3 linked regions of the Homo sapiens genome follow. The protein of the gene in region 1 purifies or fractionates together with the protein of each later gene. This does not show direct contact. Each region holds a gene or a part of one and is shown on either strand. Other genes may lie near its edges.

Evidence for each region. Proteins that work in one complex are often made in the same cells at the same time.
Region 2: the proteins of HEXB (region 1) and SUGT1 purify together in Homo sapiens (affinity purification with mass spectrometry; 2 studies listed by BioGRID, with this or other methods). This does not show direct contact.
Region 3: the proteins of HEXB (region 1) and LAMP1 purify together in Homo sapiens (affinity purification with mass spectrometry; 2 studies listed by BioGRID and IntAct, with this or other methods). This does not show direct contact.

What each region holds. Positions count from the first base shown.
Region 1 is NC_000005.10:74,679,855-74,688,338, reverse strand, and holds the start of HEXB (beta-hexosaminidase subunit beta isoform 1 preproprotein), read right to left. Parts: upstream 3,107-8,484; 5' UTR 3,079-3,106; coding exon 2,780-3,078; intron 1-2,779. UniProt on the Homo sapiens protein: Hydrolyzes the non-reducing end N-acetyl-D-hexosamine and/or sulfated N-acetyl-D-hexosamine of glycoconjugates, such as the oligosaccharide moieties from proteins and neutral glycolipids, or from certain mucopolysaccharides.
Region 2 is NC_000013.11:52,655,685-52,663,335, reverse strand, and holds part of SUGT1 (protein SGT1 homolog), read right to left. Parts: intron 5,805-7,651; coding exon 5,714-5,804; intron 5,238-5,713; exon of another isoform or gene 5,129-5,237; coding exon of another isoform or gene 5,110-5,128; intron 4,938-5,109; coding exon 4,868-4,937; intron 4,158-4,867; coding exon 4,087-4,157; intron 1,862-4,086; coding exon of another isoform or gene 1,766-1,861; intron 688-1,765; coding exon 634-687; intron 241-633; coding exon 224-240; intron 1-223. UniProt on the Homo sapiens protein: May play a role in ubiquitination and subsequent proteasomal degradation of target proteins.
Region 3 is NC_000013.11:113,307,088-113,314,738, reverse strand, and holds part of LAMP1 (lysosome-associated membrane glycoprotein 1 precursor), read right to left. Parts: intron 5,097-7,651; coding exon 4,877-5,096; intron 4,031-4,876; coding exon 3,872-4,030; intron 1-3,871. UniProt on the Homo sapiens protein: Lysosomal membrane glycoprotein which plays an important role in lysosome biogenesis, lysosomal pH regulation, autophagy and cholesterol homeostasis.

The DNA of each region.
Region 1 (8,484 bases):
AAGTACCTTTTGTTGGTATCCAAAAATCAGAGAATATTAAATAAAAATTCTGTAAAGGCATTAAATATTGTAAAGGCATTAAATATTAATATTAATATTAAATACAAAAAAAGTACCTTTTGTTGGTATCCAAAAATCAGAGAATATTAAATAAAAATTCTGTAAAGGCATTAAATATTGTAAAGGCATTAAATGTTAAATACATAAAAATTCTGTAAAGGCATTAAATAAAAATTATGTAAAGGCATTAAATAAAAAAGATCAGACAGGCTTCAGAGCAATTGTTTTTGGTATCCAAAAATCAGAATATTAAATAAAAATGTAAAGGCACTAAATAAAAAAGATCAGATAGGCTTCAGGGCAACTGTTTAAATAATATTTTACAGATTTTGGTAAGCCAGAAGGTTATATATGCTACTTATGTGTAAGAACGTCTTATGCTTTTTTGCAGAAGAGGTCGGAAAATTCTGACATGTTTGGAAGTGTATGGAAGTTAACCAATGAGAGAATGGAATGGATGTAGGTGTTGAGGGCCCTTCTCATAGGAAAACCCTGACAGATTAAAAAGGAAATTAAGACCACCGAAATACATACTTACAAAAGGTTAAGATGGTAAATTTTATGTTATGTGTATTTTTTCCTTAATTAAAATTTTTTTAAAAAAGAAATTAAAGCTGCTGGCAGCTTTGAGATCAGAGTTGGAAGCTGGCTTAGAACCTTGACCCTAGGTAGTAAAATTCTAACAGAAAACTCAAAGGGCTGTGAGGCAGTATGTCAAAGGTATGTGGGTTAGTTTAGCCTTCCAGGAAATGAAGGAGTGAAGCTATTTGTTTATTTTTAAAAATGAGTGACTAGCATGTGATGAACGCTGTTCTAGAAGCTAAAGAAGCAGCTATGCATCTAACAGCCAAACTCTCTGCCTGCAAAAAGCATACTGTTTCAAAGCAAGGTTTGTGATACAACCTGGGCTCTTCAGAGACAGGGGCTATGTGATGCTGAACAATCTGGGGCCTAGACTGTGTGTTCCTGACCACGTCGCACTTTGTGAACACTCCCATATTTCCAAATCTTTCCAACTCCACTGTGCTTTTACTCTGAGATACCTGCTGCTCCTTCTGAGTTCCTAGAATGCTCACATGCATGCCTTCAAGTCTTAGCCATAAGGGCCAACACATTTTATGACCTGCTTCCTAATAATACCAGGCATAATTAATGGCTGCTTCACTCAGAGGCCATGAGTTAGGCAAACTCTTCAGGTAATCACCCGCACATGCCTTGAAATACCAAGCCTTGCCTTCGAACCATCTCAGCTGATTTAAGTCCTGGTTATCTACCTATTGTTAACTTACATCACCCATGCTTTCTTGTCACAGTCAGTTCAGCATATTACCAAGTCCTTGTTTTACTTAGCAGTATGACACAGAAGGAAAATCCAATTCTACAAGCTGAACTCCAAGGCAAACATAATAAGCGTGTTTGTTTTTAAAAAGATTTCCAACCCTAGTCATGATCTTCTGAGACAACCTTCATGTACTTTCCATGCAATCTTTCTGAATATCCCAATGCAACCAAACACTTTGGTTCTACATCTTAACCCCACTCTGGCCTTAGCAGATTGGATACCAAAGGCTCATTAGTGTGTGTGTCTAAAATAGAGACTGATAATACCCATTTAGTTGTACAAAACAGAAGGAAACCATGAGCCTTCTGATTGTAGAGAATGAACCATTTCTGCCATCAGCATCTTGGGCCTCTGCAGCTTGAGCCTAGGCACCTGTCCTATCTGGGGTCAGAACACATTATTCAGTTAGTTTGACATTCCCTCCCCACCTGTTCAGGGTCCTGCAAGCACACTTAAGCTCTATAGTATCCACTGGGTACAGCGACAGGCTTGGGGAATGCCAGGAGGCAGTACAGTTAGCACCAAATTACAATTCTGCAGGGCACGATACGCCTTCAGGACAGTCCCACCTACACAGGTCTCACACTGAGGGGACAGTGTGTGGCGTCTTCAAACATCTCCCCAGGGGAACCTGCCTTGTCTATGGTGTGATTGGCTGACTCCCATGACAAAACTCACCCTGTCTGCAGCCAAAGGGTGAGAGAGACAGAGGCGCTATCTAGGGGTCTGTAAAAGAGGAAGCAGGGAGAGCAGGCAACATGATCGGTGTTGAGAAACAAAGTTGGATACTGCCTAACCACTGACCGCAGAAACGTAGTCAGATGCAAACATGTCACATTTTATATGGAAGAGATTTTAGGAGAGAGGGCAGTTTTAGGCAGTGCTCGAAACTGAGGACTTCTGCCATTTGAGCTGTTACCAGGAGATGTGAGGAGAGGTGAGGGGGCGAAACTGGCCTATAAATGACAGTCAGCTTTGGGGGATTCCTGGTCCCTCAAGAGAGCTTGTCTAAGCCCTTCGGGTAACTTATCCCTTTGCACGTCCTTCAAATAAGGAGCTGTCACTTTCCTCCCCAGCTCCGGTGTCCCCTCCGTCCATGCCATTTGCCCAACAAGGCCTCAGAGCAAACTCCCTCTTCCACTTACTATCCGGCTCTCAAACCAGGGTTCCTGAGCACCCAAGGTGTCCCTTAAGAAGCAGTAGGAGGGTGGGGGCAAGAGCGTGGGTTCAGTCCATGTGGCGCTGGGCAGATCGCCTGCCAGCTCCCAGGCGGTTTCTCGTCTGCGCAGTGGGGTGGTGAGGGTCTGCACAGCGCTCCGGGGTGGTCCGCCTCTCCCCTCCCCCAGGACAACTCCCGGCCGGGCCGGGAGCGCTCACCGTCGAAACGCTTCCTCCAGCAGGGTGCAGGAGGGGCCCGCCGTGGAATTGGGGCTGTGGCTGATGTAGAAGTTCTCCGGGGCGAGATGCAGCAGGTTCGGGGTCATCTTCACCAAGAGCGGCAGGGGCCACAGCGCCGGCCCCGGCTTGGCCGAGACGCTCGGGGCCCGAGCCGCCTCCGCCACCTGCACCACCAGCGCCACCTGAGTCAGCAGCGCCAACATCGCCGCCAGCAGTGTCGCCAACAGCAGCGCCAGCAGCATGGGCGGCCGGGGCAGCCCCAGCCCGCACAGCTCCATGGCCGCTCGGCTGCTTTCCGCCCGGTCTGCCGAGCCGGAGCCTCGGGACCCGACTTCCCGCCCGGCCCGGATCAGAGGAAGCGCGGCCGCGGGTGAGTCACCGAGTCAGATGACTGCGCGCGCCCGCCCCCGACTCCGCCTCCAGGCCCCGGGAGCGTCCTCGCCCAGCCCGCCCTGTCCAGGTCACCTCGAGAATTTCCTCCAGGGGTGCCCTCGGGTAGGAGCAGAGCCCAGACAGCAACCTCAAACACGGGATGGCTAAAGTAAGAAAAATGCCCGGTGCTGGCCGTACGTGGTGGCTCACGCCTGTAGCCCCAGCACTTTGGGAGGCCGAGGCGGGCGGATCACCTGAGGTCAGGAGTTCAAGACCAGCCTGGCCAAATTGGTGAAACCCCGACTCTACAAAAATACAAAAATTAGCCGAGCATGATGGCGGGTGCCTGTAGTCCCAGCTACTCGGGAGGCTGAGGCAGGAGAATCTCTTGAACCCGGGAGGCGGAGGTTGCAGTGAGCCGAGATCGCACCACTGCACTCCAGCCTGGGTAACAGAGCAAGACTCCGTCTCAAAAAAAAAAAAAAAAAAAAAGAAAAGAAAAAGAAAACGGCCCAGTGCACAGGCTCGGGACGCCAGGCCGACACCGGGTCGCCGCTCACGCTGTCAACACGGGCGCTCTCCTGTGGATCCCTGGCTTCGGTGAAGCTGGAGAAGCCAAGCTTGAGGAGCACCTTTCTCCTCTCAGCCCAACCACCAGATAACCGAGATGAGAGCTGAGTTTATTTGCTCCTAAGTCTAGGCTTTTCTGTAACAGCACTTCAGCTGTGGTCAATAAAGCCTTCCTATCAGAACTCCCTGGGGCAGAGCATGCCCAAGGAATCCTGAGAGAGAACATCTTGGCTCATCTGTGTGGGTCCCGATATAAAGGATCCCAACTGACAAGTTTGATTTCATAACCCATCCCTAAGGAAGAGCCAGTGAAGTCACATGACGAACACGGACTGGAGATGCCAAAGGGAGAAGAGGTGTTCTCTTACCAGAAGGAGAAAACGCTAGGCAGACCAAAACCACAGATCTGCTATATAAGTATTCTGAAAATGAGGGTGGAAGAGCTTTAAGGAAAGACTTCAAAGAAATGTAATGATTAGGCCAGGTGCGGCGGCTCACGCCTGAAATCCCAGCACTTTGGAAGGCGAAGGAGGGCGGATCACAAGTTCAGGAGTTCGAGACCAGCCTGGCCACCAAAGTGAAACCCCGTCTCTATTAAAAATACAAAAATTAGTTGGGCGTGGTGGCGGGCGCCTGTAATCCCAGCTACTCAGGAGCCTGAGGCAGGAGAATCGCTTGAAACCGGAAGGTGGAAGTTTTAGTGAGCTGAGATCACACCTCTGCACTCCAGCCTGGGCAACAAGAACAAGACTCCATCTTAAAAAAAAAAAAAAAAGAAAGAAAAGAAATGTAATGATTATTGGGCCTCAGAAAATGAGACCCCAAAGTGTGGCACTTTGGCATGTTGAATACTTGGAACTGAAGAAAAGAGAGTCAGAAGATCTTTCTGACCTTCTCCTGCCTTTCTTTCTCCTGCTCCCCTTTCTTCCCCAGAGCAAGCCATAGAAACTAGAATTCCTCTTTTTCAAAATGGGTCACAGAAACTAGAGCCACTGTTGGGCATGGTGGCTCACGCCTGTAATCCCAGCACTTTGGGAGGCCAAGGCAGGTGGATCACTTAAGGCCAGGAGTTCGAGACCAGCCTGGCCAACATGGTGAAACCTCATCTCTACTAAAAATACAAAAATTAGCTGGATGTGCTGGCACACGCCCGTAATCCCAGCTACTTGGGTGGCTGAGGCACAAGAATCACTTGAACCTGGGAGGCAGAGGTTGCAGTGAGCCGAGATTGCACCACTGCACTCCAGCCTGTGCCACAGAGTAAGACTCTGTCTCAGAAAGAAAAAAAAAAAAAGAAGAAACTAGAGCCCCTATGCCCCCAAAGCCAGTCATAAAATCTAGAAATATTACTCTAATCTTGCCGTGTCTTTCTGTAGGAGCCAGCCATAAAGAGGTTCTCTGACCTACCTTGTCTGATAGTGGCTCTCAAGACTTTTGTTCCAGAGTGGCCCTGCACCGTATCCTGGAGGAAGGAATACCACACAGAGAGGCCAAGAAGAATTTGAACAGACACATCTTGCCAGGTTTCTCCTCTCTATTACCATTAGGTTGATCATATCCTTTTTGCCCAATCGCATTTCTGCCTGGCTGTCTGCTCTGCATCAAACCTAAACATCAAAATAGGCAGCTTTTCCTGGGTCTTTGAGCCTTCATTCTGAAGGCTCCCATGTCATGTAAAACTGATTAAATAAATCTGTTATGCTTTCCTTGTGTTAATCTGCTCTTTTGTTATAAGAGTGTCAGCCATGACTCATGATGGATGAGGAAAGGTATCACATCTTTCCACCCCTACATGGTGCATGTTTAAAATTCTTCCATAAAAGAAAACTTCAGTGGCACACTATTCTCCCCTATTCTTATAATTAAGACAAATATAATTTGCAATATCCATCTTTACTGCCACTTTTTACTGTCAATGGAAGCACGGCATAATGTTTCCAAGATTCAATCATCAATTTATGTTGTTGCAATTACTATATACTTAATTACAACTTCACATTGCATACTAGCTATCTATTGCTGTGTCACAAATTACTCCAAGATTTAGGAGCTTAAAACAACAACAGATAAATAATAAGATAAATATCTCACAGTTCTTGTGGTTCAGGAATTTAGGAGTCTTAGCTGGGTGATTCTGGATTAGATTATCTCATGAAGTTGCAGTTGTCTGAAGGTTTTTTTCTTTAGGCTTGGCTAGTGCTGGAGGATCTTCTTTTTTTTGTTTTGTTTTGTTTTTTTTGAGACGGAGTCTCGCTCTATCGCCCAGGCTGGGGCGCAGTGGAGCCATCTCGGCTCACTGCAAGCTCCGCCTCCCGGGTTCACGCCATTCTCCTGCCTCAGCCTCCGGCGTAGCTGGGACTACAGGCGCCCGCCACCACGCCCGGCTAATTTTTTGTATTTTTAGTAGAGATGGGGTTTCACCGTGTTAGCCAGGATGGTCTCGATCTCCTGATCTCATGATCTGCCCGTCTCGGCCTCCCAAAGTGCTGGGATTGCAGGCGTGAGCCACCGCACCCAGCCCCGGAGGATCTACTTCTAAGTTAACTTGCATGGCTGTTGGCAACAGATCTCAGTTTCTTGCTGGCAACTGGCTGAAAGCCTGAGTTACTTGCCATACCCACAATATAGCAGCTGGCTTCTCCCAACCAAATGATCTGAGAAAGACAGCAAAGAGGAAGCCACAATGCCTTTATATAGCGTAATCTTGTAAGTGACATGCATCACTGCTACCACATTATATTCCTTAGAAGTAAGTCACCGAAGAGTTTAAGAGTGGATCTCAGATGCAAGGAAATTGAAGGCTAGAAGACTAGGAAGAGATAAATTATCGGTGGGAATGACTGTGGGCATTTAGGAATTAGGGTGATGGAGGGTGGTTTCAGGAAGATTTGGAGTTACATTCACCAAGCCCTGAGATCTTGTGAAACTATCAGATCTCTTTTTTATTGCACCCCGTTATTAACTCTGACTCATTATTTAAAAGGGTGCTATAACACGGGAACAATATTAACATACTCATGGTTGGGTTAGATTTTATTTTTTAGAAATGGGGTCTCACTATGTTACTCAGGGTGGACTTGGGCTTGGGCTCAAGCAATCATGTCTCAGCCTCCTGAATAGTTAGTACTACAGGCCTATACCAATACACCCAGCTTGGGTTATATTTTAAATCAGGGTTTCTCAACCTCAGCACTAGTGACATTTTTGGCTAGATGGTTTTTTGTTCTGGGGAGCTGTCCTGTGCATTACGTGATGTTTAGTAGCAACTGGGCTCTACTCACTGGTCGTCAGTAGCACCACCCCCAACCCCTGAGCCTCAGTGGTAAAAAACATAAATGTCTCCAGATATTGCCAAATATCACCTTGTTGAGCTCCATTAGTCTAAGTAATAATCACTACAACTTATTCACCAACAACAAGGTGCCAGACATATTATTATCATCCTCTTATTTTATCCCCAAACAACTTAAGAGGTAGGTTTTATTGTCCCCATTTTAGAGGACTATGTTGAGGCTCCAGGGCCCCGAAGAACTAAATGGTTTGCTCACGATACCACAGCTAATTAAAGCTAACGCATGGAATTGAAACAACATGGAGCTGAAACAAAGTTTCCCCAGATGACTGAAATATGAAAAAGTGGACCACTATGGATTTACAGCAAATGTGTTTCCACTGAATTCATTTGTATGGTATCTGGTTTCCCTGAGGACCTTTCTAAACATGTAACACCATTGCTTAAAATGCATCACTGGATTTTTACTTTCTATAGGGTAAAATCAGACCTTTAATTAAAGACCATCAACCTACTAGTCTAATCAGAATCTGAATCAAGTTTCTCCACCTGGGTGCACTGTGTGCTAAATATCCCCAAAATGGAATCCTAACATGTGTACCTGCTGTTATTTTTCCCTTGCTTTTATTTTTCCCACATTCAAGGGGAGGGGAATTAGCTTCCACCTTTTGAAGGGAGGAGTATACTTTCTGACCACAAATTATTTCTATTTCTTCCATGCAAAACACATTCCCTTTCTCCCAAGAACCCCAAAAATCTCATCCCTTTAGAAAAGCAGCTTGAAATCCAGAATGTTAGCATATAAATTACATCCAGGTGTGGGTGAGATTCCTAGGATGCAGTTCCTTAAAGTTCTTCAAGTACAGTTCCTCTTAGTGTGAAGACCTGTGAACTAAATGCAAGTTATCTGCCTCCCACTCCTCCCCGACACAAAAATACAGTGGTGGACAGGTGTAAAATAACCACTGTAAACATTCCTGTTCAAAAAGGGAAAAATGAGAGGCAACAACGAGTCTGTAGCAATTCCAAAATCCAGCCAGGCAAATGTTGAAGTTCCTTGATCCGGATTCAAAGACTGAAAATAATTCCCTATGGCTCTTGATGTCACCTTGTGGGCAGTTCTGATTTGCGAGTCATCCTTCCTTTTTCATGAAAGATAGTATCCCTTTCAGTTCATGCTGGCAGTGTTTCTGCTGTTAAAGACTGTGTTGGTTCCTTGTTAATCTTACTGAAGTTCATGCCATTAGACAAAAGCCACTTCCACACATCTCTTCAAGATACGCTCTATTGTTTGAGAGGGTTTGTCAGTCATACTGTTAAAATATTTAGAGGACATTTTGTCTGATTGAAAGGTACTCTAAGACACCACAATAGATCTTTCTGAGGTCTTAAGGGATTTTATAATTACAACTTGGGTTTCCTATTTAGACCATGTTTTCCTGGGGTTGCC
Region 2 (7,651 bases), on another chromosome or scaffold:
ACCACACACTAAATTCATTAAAATAGGCCAATAATTTTCATGACTGGAAACTTCTATATTTATCAAAAAATGATTTTATTTCAGTGCCTAGAGGAACCAGCACTTAAATGGAATTGCTTAATATTTAAATATCAGACAGCTCATCCTGAGTCTTGTCTCAAATATATTTGGTAGCTGAAATTTAAAATAATAAAAACATGAAGAATGAAAACTTTGGACTTACCACCTCAGATTCTGAGCCTATTAAAACATAAAAAGGAAACATTTTCAGGGAACAGTGCATTTTTAAGCAAAGTTATTTGTATGATTTCTATAGCACAAACATACTGATTAAGCAAGCAAATTCTCCGTACCTTTCAACTAAAGAAAAGTGGTTTCATTTTGCATCCTGAATTCATTTTAGACTCCTTAGTAATTTCTTACTGATATACCATACAAGCAAATCCACCCAAATCCCCCTTTCAACATAAGAAGCTATGCAAAAACCAGTGTATCTTTGGAAGTCCACATCTAAGGAAACGTATACTATTTAAAAGAAATTATAAAGATAAAAACAAATTTGTTTAAACCAAAAAAATTTCAGATGTTTACTTCTTTTTAAATTGAAACAAATACCAAGGGAGACCCACATACCATTCTGAGCTTCTTGACACCTTTTAATCCAGACACTGAAATTAGCATCTGCACCTAGAAAGAAAAAACTGACTATAACATCACTCATCTGCACAACCTATAAATCAACAAATACTTACTGAATACCTACTACATCCCAGGCAGTGTTCTAGGCACTGGGGAGTCGGCAGCGAACAAAACCTGTCTTAACAGACCTTATCACCAACTCTACTATAGTTATAAATATACCAATAGTTTAACATTTAGTTGTTAATCATGAAACATTTTGATTTTTTAAAAATTTTAACTACAGTCAACCTTAATTTCACAGATACAAATAATCTGCATTTCCCCCAATCCCGCTGCTCTTAGAGAAGCTTCCTCACACACAGAACAAAATCAGATGTAAATCAGACTCCCAATATGCCATCAGTTAGGGTGGGGAGGAGGCTTGGTAACTGGGAGCTGAGTTGAGGTTCAAAAGCCGTTCCCAGCCCCAGCTTGCTCTTCAATGCAGATACCTATTCAGTCCACTATTCTCTCAGTGGCTTTATCTGTTACCATGCCTTTCCTACCAACACCAAGCATCTTTAAATTCCGTGAAGTTTTGTCCTATCTCCAAGTTACATGGCAGTCGAGAGGCTATAGGTGATGTATTATATATTTATAGATAACAGTGTAAATGTATGCATAAACAAATTATTCACTTCTGGAGACACAGAACAATGATTACATTTAAACAGTCACAGTGCATAGTAAGATATGTTAAAAGTATTAAAAGTACTCTAAATAAGAGCTTATTAATTCAAGTTAACTGCAGACAAGATAAATTTGAAAATCTTAAATTAAAAATTTCTTAACAAAAATTTCTACTTTACTAATTTATAAAAGAAATCCAACTATACCAGCATTAATAAAAAATTTAAATACACTCTCACACACACTGTATTCTAGAGAACTATTGTATCAAAATCTATTATATCAAAAAGATTTGAGTAACCTATTATTTTAAGTAATCAGTAACTAAAACCAAGCAATTTATCACACAAAGAGGGGAAAAGGTAACAATTCTTTACCCTGTCTGATAAAAATAGAAGCCTAAAAGTTTAACTTAACTTTTTCCCAGATTTTGGCCGGGCATGGTGGCTCATACCTGTAATCCCAGCACTTTGGGAGTCCAAGGCAGGTGGATCACTTGAGGTCAAGAGTTGGAGACCAGCCTGGCCAACACGATGAAACCCCGTCTCTACTAAAAATACAAAAATTAGCCAGGCTTGGTGGTGCATGCCTGTAGTCCCAGCTGCTCAGGAGGTTGAGGCAGGAGAATCACCTGAACTTGAGAGACAGAGAACTGCACTATGGCCTGGACAACACAGTGAGACTCAGTCTCAAAAAAAGAAACAAACAAACAAACAAACAAAAACAAAAAAAAACCCCAAAAAACAACAACAAAAAAAGTTTCCTGGATTTAAAGACAAATTTATTTTTAAGTAAAATATCCTCAACAGCAATTTTACCAAACAGGTCTTCCTCTGAAGGCCACCTCTGAAATAACTAAAGAATAAATGTCAATGGCATGATATTAAGATATTACTCAAGAAAATAATCTAGGGGCCAGACGCAGTGGCTCATGCCTGTAACCCCAGCACTTTCAGAGGCCGAGGCAGGCAGAACGCTTGAGTCCAGGAGTTCAAGACCAGCCTGGGCAACATGGCAAATCCCCATCTCTGCAAAAAATAAAATGCAAAAATTAGTCAGGTGTGGTGGCATGTGCCTGTAGCCCCAGTTACTCAGGAGGCTGAGGTGGGAGGATCACTTGAGCCCAAGAGGTGGAGGCTGCAGTGACCCAAGATCGCACCACTGCACTCCAGCCTGGGCGACAGAGCGAGACCTTCTCTCGCTAAAAAAAGAAAGAAAAATGAAAATGTAGAGAATGGTATGACTCATGTTTCTTCAGGATTTTCACATTAGGTACCAAGGCACTACATAACTTCACTCTAGAATTTGCTAAGAGTGCAGATGTCCTGTTTGCTGACTGAATAGGCCTACTATTCACATACCAAAACTGGGATAAGCAAGTTTGAGAATAAGCCTTATCACCCAGACCTCTCCTTTTTTAATTTGTAGCTTCCATTTGCATAATCAGTGCTAAAATCCTTTTTTCTGAATAGGTACACAACAGAAAGGCAAACATTCAAAACAGTACAGAGTAAGAATGTAACATAAAATACTAAGAGTGAAGTTTCTTAATTTCAGCACTACTGACATTTTGGACCATATACTTCTTTGTTAGGCAGAACTGTCCTGGGCATTATAGAATATTTAGTAGCACCCCTGGTTTATACTCATTAGATGTCAGTAGCACAACCCCCATCCACCATTCATGATTATCAAAAATCTCTTCAGACATTGCATAAAGTTTCCTGGGAAGCAAAACCGTTTCCAGTTAAGAACCACTTCTTTAGAGAACTGTGATAAAACTCTATCATAACATAAAGATAAAATGATAATACAAGTAGGATTATGTAGTCTCCAATTTTCTGAAATTACTCACAACCTCTTAGTATTTTTCAGATTTAAAAATTCTTGGCTCTCGGCTGGGTGCAGTGGCTCATGCCTGTAATCCCAGCACTTTGGGAGGCCGAGGAGGGTGGATCACAAGGTCAGGAGATTGAGACCATCCTGGCTAACATGGTGAAACCCCATCTCTACTAAAAATACAAAAAAATTGGCCGGGCGTGGTGGTGGTCGCCTGTAGTCCCAGCTACTCGGGGGGCTGAGGCAGAAGAATGGCGTGAACCCGGGAGGCAGAGCTTGCAGTGAGTCGAGATCGCGCCACTGCACTCCAGCCTGGGCGACAGAGTGAGACTCCGTCTCAAAAAAAAAAAAAAAAAAAAAAAAAAAAAAAATATATATATATATATATATATATATTCTTGACTCTCACAATTTCTATATGTCTAGATATCCACACCACTGTGATACTTTTCATATATTCCCTCAAGAATATAACATTAAAAGTCACAATACTCTCAAAACTGTGTTTCTTCTGTACCCTCTCATAATTTACCCAAACGTACACTTCACTTCTCCATAAAAACCTTTAATGTTAAGATTTCACATCTCAGCAATCTGAATAATTTAAAATGAACAGACTTCTGACCAAGGCAAATTAAACTTTCACTTCTCCATTAGAAAAAAACAAAGCCAGACTAAACAGAGAGAGCATGTTAGGTGTTTCCATAGTTTTTTTTACTTCTAATGGTGAAGTTCATCTATGATTTAAATGCCAAAAGGCTAATTTAATCGATTTTAAGTGATCTCATATCTGCAATCAATATGAAATATAATTTAGATGAGAAAAACAGGTATTGGGTTTCTACAATTAACTTGAAATTAACATTACCAAAATTCAGCTTTGGTATTTAAGACAGAAATAGATAAGTTTATTAAAGTATAATTTTTAATACTTACTATCTAATTTTTGTCCTTCTGTAAAAGTTTCTAGGGCAGCAGCATAGTTTTTTTCATGGTATTCACATATTCTGCATGAATATATTTAAAACAAATTAAGACACACAAAAAATCTGGAAAATACCTTCTTTCTAAATAAAAAACTTAGTATTTTCTACTGTTGAAAGAAAAAATTTATTTTAAGTGTATGTTAATAAACCTAGAGACTTTCTAATATACTGTTAAGATCTAGTACAATTCCTACTAAAATTCAATTTTAGAACTCACTTCAGAAGGAATCTGACTTTAATTGTACAGACTTGCTTACTCAAAAATATAATTATACAAAGGAATTAAAGAAGTTTCTTAAAGAATAGTTATACTTATCAACAGAAACAAGATGGGATATAAAGTATACAGATATAGCGCTTTCATAGCATTAAATGTAGCCTATTCAGCTTTGCTGAATAGGATGTTGTCCAGTCAATTAAATATAGTAAATTCCAAAAGATTGAAAAAAAAAAAAAAAAAAGCAATGTGAAATCTATCAGTTTCATCTATACCTTGCAAATACTTCAATCATCACTATTTTAAAATTTACTAAGTACAGATCTCCTATCACATACTTTGGTTAACAAAATAATAGAACTATAAGTTGTATTTAAAATTGAATCATATCTCTGCTATATAATGTATAAATACAGAATTTTACAACTTATATAAAGCTTGCAATGAACTCATTCAACAAATTAAATACCTACTATCTATACCAAGCTCAACAAGAAGAGTAGCTACTGCATACCCTTTTCTCAGCATAGCAGTGGAATTATTTGGATTGAGTTCTAGAGACTTCTTTGCATCAGCAACAGCAACTGTGTAGAAAAAGACGGGTTTTTAGTCAGTTATTTATAGATCCTAGCAAATACACACAACATATGAATCAGTTTTAGATTTCTAAGTTTTCAAGTTGGTAGAAATGCCAAATGGTTTTAAATTAGGAAAAGCTAATACAAGATAGAATTCAAATAAATATTACTCTTGTACCTTCCTTTTGGCTTAACATTTAGCTTCCTTCTTAAAGCTCTTCAATGAATACAGCTGTGTCACAAAATTCACCTCCTTGTCTCATTAACATTTTCTATGTAATTTTACTCAAGGTATTCAGTTTTTCCCTATTCAGAAGGTACAAAATACAGAAATACATTACTTTTTAAATACAGGTGGTCTTGTTATGTTGCCCAGGCTGGTCTTGAACTCCTGGGCTCAAATGATCCTCCTGCTTTGGTCTCCCAAAGTGTTGGGATTACAGGCGTGAGCCACCATGCCTGGCCACATTCTTTTTTATAAAAAAAATTTAAACGAGCATTTCATTTTAATAGTCTGTCAAATAGTAAATGTGATGCTATTTTTTATCAGCATACCCAATAACTATGAATGAAATCTGTATACATTCTCCACCCAATGAAGGAAAAAGCGACATCCATAAAATTTAAATGGGTGTTGCTCAACATGTCTGTCACATTTGAGCTACTTTACCTTGTATAAAAGACCAATTTAAAAATTCTCAAAGACAACTTTTAATTTGTCATGGGTAAAATGTATAAGTAACTTATTAAAAGGGGGCAATATACTTTATAAGAAACGTTACCACAGTAATTCCCAAGAAGAATGTGACAATAAGCTCTTTGACAATAATACTGTGCATCATCTGGTTTCTGTTCCAAAGCCTTAGTCAGCTCCTACAAAAACAAACATGTGGAGCGTCAGTAAAAGTTTGTAAGAAGCCATCAAATTCTAATTAAAACATAATTTTTAATCAAGTAACTTATTGTCAGAAGCTATTTGGAGGAAAGATAACACGGATATAATATTGGAGTTTTTCCTTATAAAAGGATCAATATCTCCCCCACTTCTCTTGCCCCTCCTCCCAAAAGTAGGCAATCTAATGTAGCATCTCTGTACCGTAAAGCTTTTAGTTCCTGGTCTATAGAACTTAATAAATGATCATTATTATCAGCTCATATATTCTGAAGAGTTTAATTGTTACACATTGACCATTACAGATTTCCTCCTACTAATTTGAAGAAGATTCAAACACCATATAGAATTTGAGATTCCTAGAAAATGTTAAGCTGTGCAATAAAAAAAGACCAGAAGTTAAATCTAGCACTCAGGGAGGTTAAGACAATCAATACATACACAATCAAGTGTACCTGGCCCTCTCCTAGCCTCTAACAATAGCACACAACTCTAATAAAACCCAACTAAATATTCTGTTCAAAGCCCAGATACAATCTAATAGATGGCTATGTCAACTACCAAGAGTTAACATTAGAGATTGAAACTTTTTTAACTTGTGCAGTCACAACATATAGGTGTGGTAGCTGGAAAAATAATGATGTAAGAGATTACACAATTAGGGAGATCAAAGACAAGTGCAGGAACACTTTTATTTTCTGCCAACTGCCTACAAACTCTAGGGATTTGGTAGTTTTCTTAAATGGTAAAATTATTTCAAGAGCCACATGTATCATTGACTTTGCTTTAACCTAGTAGTGTGACTCTCAGAAAGCAACATATACAGATGCTCCTCAACTCACATGGGGTTACAGTCAATCAACAGAAAGTAAGGCTCAAATCAAGAGAGCAAAGAAGCTGTAAGATGCTACTTTAAGGGCCTCACTTTGTAGCTTGCAGGCAGTTATAAGGAATTTGGACCTTACGTTTGATGGAAAGCCATGGAAAGTTCACTGTTAGTAAGGGGAACATGGTCCAATTTACTTTTTTTTAATGTCATTCTGGCTGCAGTATGGTAAATACATTATCAAATCAAGACTGGAAACGGAGACTTCTTAGGAAACTATTACATTAAGTCTAGGCTAGAAAAGGATGTTAGCCACAGAGGTGATGAAAAGAAATACGATTAAGTTGGAACATATTAGAAGCAGAGAGACTTGCTAATGGGTGAACATGTGGGATAAGAGAAACTGAAGATGACTCCAGGGTGTTGGGCTTGCCTAGATCTGTATGTGACATCCAGTAATCACTCAATGAAAAGTATTGATTTTTCTTCTTGCAGACTTTTTTCAGCCTTTTCCCCAGTCTCTACTTTGACTGCATCTCCTTTGCCATAGAATACAAAAATATTTGCCTCTCTAGTCTTAATCTTCTCAAAGTCACTAATAACCCCTTATAAAATCCAACTGATTCCTATCTGACTTGATCTCTCTGTGGCCCTTGACAATAATAACCAGGCCTTTCAGCTTACCATTCTGCTGCCTCTTAAAAACTAATGTTCTCCTTGGGCTCAGTACTTAAGACTTCTTCCCCTCTACAAACATTCTTTGATTCCTTAACTACTGGGGGGCTTCACATATGTGTTGATGCATGCTGATGACTCAAGTCTATCTTGAGCCTAGACAGTGGTCCTGGGCAACATCAGCATATAGTTTTCTCTAAACTTTACCTGAAATGTCCCAGAGGCAACTCATATACAAATATTCACAATCTAAAACTACTTTCTATCCTCAAACCTATTCCCCCATGCTGAAGGCAATCTTCTAAGTGCTATCATCCTAAGTGCTAT
Region 3 (7,651 bases), on another chromosome or scaffold:
CCCAGGCACACGGGCATCTCCACACTGACTCCCTCTAGGAGGCCACGCCCCAGGCACACCGACATCTCCACACTGGTTCCCTCCAGGAGGCCACGCCCCAGGCACACGGGCATCTCCACACTGACTCCCTCTAGGAGGCCACGCCCCAGGCACACCGACATCTCCACACTGGTTCCCTCCAGGAGGCCACGCCCCAGGCACACGGGCATCTCCACACTGACTCCCTCTAGGAGGCCACGCCCCAGGCACACTGGCATCTCCACACTGGTTCCCTCCAGGAGGCCACGCCCCAGGCACACGGGCATCTCCACACTGACTCCCTCTAGGAGGCCACGCCCCAGGCACATGGGCATCTCCACGCTGGTTCCCTCCAGGAGGCCCCGCCCCAGGCACACGGGCATCTCCGCACTGGCTCCCTCCAGGAGGCCACGCCCCAGGCACACCGACATCTCCACACTGACTCCCTCCGGGAGGCCACGCCCCAGGCACACCGACATCTCCGCACTGGTTCCCTCCAGGAGGCCACGCCCCAGGCACACGGGCATCTCCACACTGACTCCCTCTAGTAGGCCACGCCCCAGGCACACGGGCATCTCCACACTGACTCCCTCCGGGAGGCCACGCCCCAGGCACACGGGCATCTCCACACTGGTTCCCTCCAGGAGGCCACGCCCCAGGCACACGGGCATCTCCACACTGACTCCCTCTAGGAGGCCACGCCCCAGGCACACGGGCATCTCCACACTGGTTCCCTCCAGGAGGCCACGCCCCAGGCACACGGGCATCTCCACACTGACTCCCTCTAGGAGGCCACGCCCCAGGCACACCGGCATCTCCACGCTGGTTCCCTCCAGGAGGCCATGCCCCAGGCACACGGGCATCTCCACACTGACTCCCTCCAGGAGGCCACGCCCCAGGCACACTGACATCTCCACACTGGTTCCCTCCAGGAGGCCATGCCCCAGGCACACGGGCATCTCCACACTGACTCCCTCCAGGAGGCCACACCCCAGGCACACTGACATCTCCACACTGGTTCCCTCCAGGAGGCCATGCCCCAGGCACACGGGCATCTCCACACTGACTCCCTCCAGGAGGCCACACCCCAGGCACACCGACATCTCCACACTGGTTCCCTCCAGGAGGCCACGCCCCAGGCACACCGGCATCTCCACACTGACTCCCTCTAGGAGGCCACGCCCCAGGCACACTGGCATCTCCACACTGGCTGCCTCCAGGAGGGGCAAGTGGCCAGGGCTGGGCTGTCGGGCCTTTTTCCATTTGGAATCACATGCGTGTTCTCCATTAAAAAAGGAACCAACGTCCAGGATCTGGACACAGAGGAAGGCTGTACATGCGCAGCGGCAGAGAATACACAGAAACCTAAGACTGCTCTAAAAAATAGTCTATCTTAAAAGTAATTATTAACCTGAAGAAACAGGTTTCTCAAAAGAACCTAGCAAGCTTCTCTGGACCTGTGAAGCCTTATTTTTCATCTAGAGAATCCTGCCACCCGTCTCAGGGCACTCAACATCCTTGCTGACCTCCACCTAGCAGCCCTTCACTTCCAGGCAGGAGTGAGTGAGCGGTCATGCCATGCGCACCCCTCGGTCACAGAGCGACATGGGGAGGAGACACGTTCTGCAACCGTGTCCAGGCCTAGCCAGTAGGGAGTCCCCGGACAAGGTCAGCATCCAATTCTCTCTCATTTCCCAAGCTCTGACAGAGAGTGCGTGCCCTTCCTTTTCCTCTTCAAGCCACATTGATGCAGCCCAGAGGTAGCCAGCTAGGTGTGGAGCCCAGATAATTTGGAAATCGATAACCGTGAACACTAGTCACCCCCATGTGTTACGCTAACTCCCACTTGGTAGGGAGCACTGCCCCTAGCTGAAGTTATCTTTAGCTCTGGCTGAGGTGTGTCTGAGAGCATGAACACACCTAGACAGGCTGCCAGGCGTCCGTCCTCAGACACACGCGGCCCATGTGAGAGGACTCTAGCCCGCTCTTCCTGATGAAGCAGACACGACTCCAGGCTCCGTGTGAACAGAGGCTGCACCAGGAAAGCGGCTGTCACCACGGCCCCCGGGGCCCTGTGTTGAGGATTAAAGGCAGCAGCACCTACAGAGGACCCAGCTCCTAAGTGTGTTTCCTTCCAAGCCTCCCCTATGGGAGCCCACGTGGCCCCATCAAGTCCCAGTCACACCCGGGGTTTCCAAGTTGGGCTCCTTTTCACCCACTCACCAGGGAAGGCAAAGTCTGCCGCAAAGCTACAGACAGTAAATATTTCAGACTTTGTGGGCCGTGGCTCTCTGTCAAGACAACACAGCCCTGCCACTGTTAATACAAAAGCAGCCACAGATAATGTGTAAATAAATGAGTGTGGCTGTGTTCCAAGAAAATTTAACTTATGGACACTGAATTTTACATAATCTTTATGTGTCAAGAAATATTCGTTTTCTGATTTTTGGTATGTTACATTTATAAATCGAAAAGCCGTTCTTAGCTCATGGGCTGTATGGAAATTGGAGGTGGGCAAGACCGGCCCAGCACCATGGGGTGCCGACCTGCAAGAGTACCTGCTCCTCGGGGAGGAGTGAGACGGACGATCCTCCTGTGGAGCCCAGCAGTCACTCCTCAGCCTTTAAGCAAGACTGCTGAGGAATGTTGCAAACCAAAGGTCTCCACAGTAGCTCTCAAGATTAGAGAAGGCTGTGATGTCTCCATATATTTCTAGCAGCCAGGAAAGCCCACCCTAAGGGATGTCTCCATACATATTTCTATCAGCCGGGAAAGCTCACCCTAAGGCAAATCACAGGCCCTCACGCTTCAGCAAAATGACAACAACCTATGACCTGGACTGTGAGGCTCGGGAGAGAAGCTCCTCAAAAGTAACAGGATTTACCAGGTGCTTGCTACTTAACTCTGTGCCAGATGCTGAGATACACATTTTGCATACATTTCTCTTTTAATTCCAACAACCTTTGAAGACAGGCTTTTAATCTCATGCCACATGCAAAGAAAATGAGAGGTAAACTACCCTGCTCAAGATCACAGGGCTAGGAGGTGGCCTGGACCCTGCCTGACCCCAGAGCCCGGCGGCTGGGTTAGCAGGTACATCATCGCAGCCCTGACCTCCTCAGAGAGGCAGCGTTGGTCTTTCTGCACCTGTCCCTAAGCTGGCCGGCCAGAGCTGGATGGAGATAAGACTATGTCTCTGTGTGAAGGCAACTGGCTCAAACTGCAAGAGATCTGTGACCCTGGTCCCATCATCTCTGCCCCAGTAGAAGCACAAAGGTTTCAACTGCTTTGCCCTTCTGACATTTTCAAGTAATAATTGTATACGTTTACCATGTGTGTCAGGATGTTTTGAAATACACCTACATGTGTGACAGCTAAAATCAAACACTTACTTTTTTATGGTGAGAAGAGTTAAAATCTACTTAGCAATATTCAAGCCAGAATACATTATTAACTGCAGTCACATGCTGTACTAATTCCTCCTGTCTTCCGGAAACGCTCTATCTTCTGACCAACTTAACCCCAGCCCCTGGTGATCACCTCTCTCTCTACCCGCCCCCCGCCGACTCCCACTGCTTTAGCTCCCACGGGAGACCACACAACATCTGTCTCTGTCCCGGGATATTTCACTTCAATATTCCACCCTTTTTAATCAACATGTGTCTACCCTCATCTACAAGTCACCTGCCCTAGGAAGAAGGATGAGAACGTTCTGCAGAGACGTCGCCGGCTGTGTGCACACGCGTTCCAGGCAGAGCCCAGCACCAGGACACAGAGCAGTGAGGTCACCCGCAGCCACTGCAGCCCAGCTACCCAACCACTAGCACCAGAGGGCCAAGGGTCAGCGTCCTACCTCCCCGGCTGAAGCTGCTGTTGGAAAGGTACGCCTGGATGGTGGCATCATGGAGCGTTACGGTCACGTTGTTCATGTGGACCTGGGTGCCACTAACACATCTGTATTTTTTATCTATATCTGCCCTGATGTCAGTTATAGATTCCACAGTCTTGATTTCTAGATTAAAAAAAAAAAAAATCACAATTGCAAACTACTTGCAGTACTTAGTTTATGTGTTTTTTATTTTAGCCCTGATGTCAGTTATAGATTCCAGTCTTGATTTCTAGATTAAAAAAAAAAAATCACAATTGCAAACTACTTATAGTACTTAGTTTACTTTATGTGTTTTTTATTTTTTTTGAGACAGAGTCTCGCCCTGTCGCCCAAGCTGGAGCACAGTGGCGTGATCTCGGCTCACTGCAACCTCCGCCTTCTGGGTTCAGGCGATTCTCTTGCCTCAACCTCCTGAGTAGCTGGGACTACAGGCGCGCGCCACCACGCCCAGCTAATTTTTGTATTTTTAGTAGAGAGGGGGTTTCACCATGTTGATCAGGCTGGTCTCGAACTCCTGACCTCATGATCTGCCCGCCTCGGCCTCCCAAAGTGCTGGGATTACAGGCGTGAGCCACCGCGCCTGGCTGTGTGTTTTTTATTTTTTAGAGACAGTCTCACTTGGTCGCCTAGGCTGGAGTGCAGTGGCACCATCTCGGCTCACTGCAACCTCTGCCTCCTGGGTTCAAGCGATTCTCCTGCCTCAGCCTCCCGAGTAGCTGGGATTACAGGTGCCCGCCACCACACCTGGCTAATTTTAGTATTTTTAGTAGAGACAGTGTTTCGCAATGTTGGCCAGGCTGGTCTCAAACTCCTGACCTCAAGTGATCTGTCTGCCTTAGCCTCCCAAAGTGCTAGGATTACAGGTGTGAGCCACCACACCCAGCCTGTACTTCTTAGGTAAAAGTAACTTTAGACAATCCTCCAACCCAATTTTCTATCACTTCATAATCGGCCCATTTTGGTTCTTACCTTTGGAGCTCGCATTGGGGAAAAGGTGTGTGTCTGACAAGTTATAAACAAAACTCATGAGCTGGACGCTGTAACGTGTTGCATTTCTCGTGAAATTGAGAGTGAGTGTATGTCCTCTTCCAAAAGCAATCACGAGACTGGGGTCAGAAGTGTTCTCTTTTCCACAGGAGCTGCGGTTGAGCACCACTGTGGCATCTGATGGCAGGTCAAAGGTCATGTTCTAGAATAAACACAATTAAATGTAACCCAATTGGGATGCAGGTTATTAAAAGTTCAAAGAAAGAGATTTTCTGTAAGTCTGATATAAACTTATACTTCATTTCCAACTAAGATATCACTACTGAGGTACTCATTTTTAATATAAACCAAAAAAAGGTTAGTATTACATGTCAGTAAAAGACTGAAAAGTATTTCAGGTGTAAGAGAAAGTTGGCTTAATAATTCATATAATCAAAAATTTGCAGCTGGGCATGGTGGCTCACACCTGTAATGCTAACACTCTGGGAGGCTGAGGTGGGGGGATTGCTTGAGCCCAGGAGTTCAAGACCAGCCTGGGCAACATAGCAAGACCCCATCTCTACAAAAACAAAATAAACTAATCAGACATGGTGGTGTCTGCCTGTCGTCCCAGCTACTCAGGAGGCTGAGGCAGGAGGATTGCTTGAGCCTAGGTTTGAGGCTGCAGTGAACTACGACTGCACCACTGCACTCCAGCCTGGGCAACAGAGCAAGACTCTGTCTCCAAACAAAACAAAACAACCCCATAAATTCATTTTATGTTAATATAATTTATAACAGAATTTAAAGCGTCTTGAAATTGAAACAATTCACACCAGCTTCAGGGTGAGATATATATTTGAGAAAAGCTATCACTACTTTTTTACTATAGAAATGTTCATTTAAATAATGTTTCTTTAAACAAAGAAGGTGTTTATAGCAGAAATGTTTAAATTTACTACTATAAGCAAAACGAGCAACTGGAAAACCACTTAATGTTCATCAAAGTAAACTAGATAGGTCAAATGAACTACAGTGAAGCAGTATACTAACGTGGGCCAAAAAACAACACGAAACTACACAAGGTGATAAAGACATGTTCTGTGAAATAACAAAGTGCATAACAGCATATAGGTGACCTCACTTGTGAAACATAATTTATAATAGAATATTTAAAAAATCCAACCACCAAAACCAAACATTAAAAAAGTGATGTAGAAATTAAATAAAAAGTGCTTGGAGACCAGGTACGCTGGGCCACGCCTGTAATCCCAGCACTTGGGGAGGCCGACGTGGGAAGATCACCTGAGGTCAGGAGTTTGAGACCAGCCTGACCAACATGGAGAATCCCTGTCTCTACTAAAAATACAAAAATTAGCTGGGCGCATGCCTGTAATCCTAGCTACTTGGGAGGCTGAGGCAGAAGAATTGCTTGAACCCAAGAGGCAGAGGTTGCAGTGAGCCAAGAACGCGCCATTGTACTCCAGCCTGGGTGACAAGAGCAAAACTCTGCCTCAAAAAAAAAAAAAAAAAAAAAAAAAGTGCTTGGAGGCCAGGTACGGTAGCTCACACCTGTAATCCCAGCACTTTGGGAGGCCAAGGTGGGCAGATCACTTGAGGCCAGTAGTTTAAGACCAGCCTGGCCAACATAGCAAAACCCCGTCTCTACTAAAAATACAAATAATTAGCTGGCCATGGTGGCATGCACCTGATGTCCCACCTACTGAGGAGGCTGAGGCACGAGACTCACTCAAACCTGGGAGGTGGAAGACACAGTGAGCCGAGATCTTGGCACTGTACTCCAGCCACCTGGGGGACAGAGTGCAACTCTGTCTCAGAAAAAAGAAAAAAGGCTTTGACAAGTATTTATAATTTGAGACTGGATTTTTTTTTTTTTTTTTTTTTTTTGGAGATGGTCTCGCTCTGTCACCCAGGCTGGAGTGCAGTGGCAAGATCATAGCTCACTGCAGCCTCGACCTCACAGGCTCAAGCAATCCTCCCACCTCAGCCTCCCAAGTAGCTGGGACCACAGGCACACTCCACCATGTCTGGCTTTTTTTTTTTTTTTTAAAAAAGAGATAAGATCTTACTATGTCTTGGATTTTTAAAATATTTTGTTATTCCAAAAGGCTTTAGTCATCCCAAAGAAACACAAAGCCATTTCAACAAAACCACTAAGGAACATTTTAATCAAACTAGTACAGTGTTTGCATTGCATGTCAACCAACCATTTATATACATTTCTTGCAGTATAACTCTCTAAATCAAAAAAGCCACATTCACAGAGCATGAAAAAGATTCAAGACAACTTACCAATTACTAATAGGGGAGTGTGTAACAAATTATGGTGAATTAACATAATAAAGTATTACATTATGATTATAAAAGACAATCACGAAGAAAACTAGAGCTGGGAGGGGTGGCTCACCCCTGTAATTCCAACACTTTGGGAGGCCAAGGCAGGCAGATCACTTGAGGTCAGGAGTTTGAGACCACCCTGGCCAACATGGTGAAACCCCGTCTCTACCAAAAATACAAAAATCAGCCAGGCGTGGTGGTGGGCACCTGTAGTCCCAGCTACTCAGGAGGCTAAGGCAGGAGAACTGCTTGAACCCAGGAGACGGAGGTTGTGGCGAGCTCAGATCGTACCACTGCACTCCAGCCTGGGCGACAAACCAAGATTCCATCTCAAAAAAAAAAAAGAAAACTAGAAAAATGTTGATGATAGGCTGGGCGCGGTGGCTCACACCTGTAATCCCAGCACTTTGGGAGGCCAAG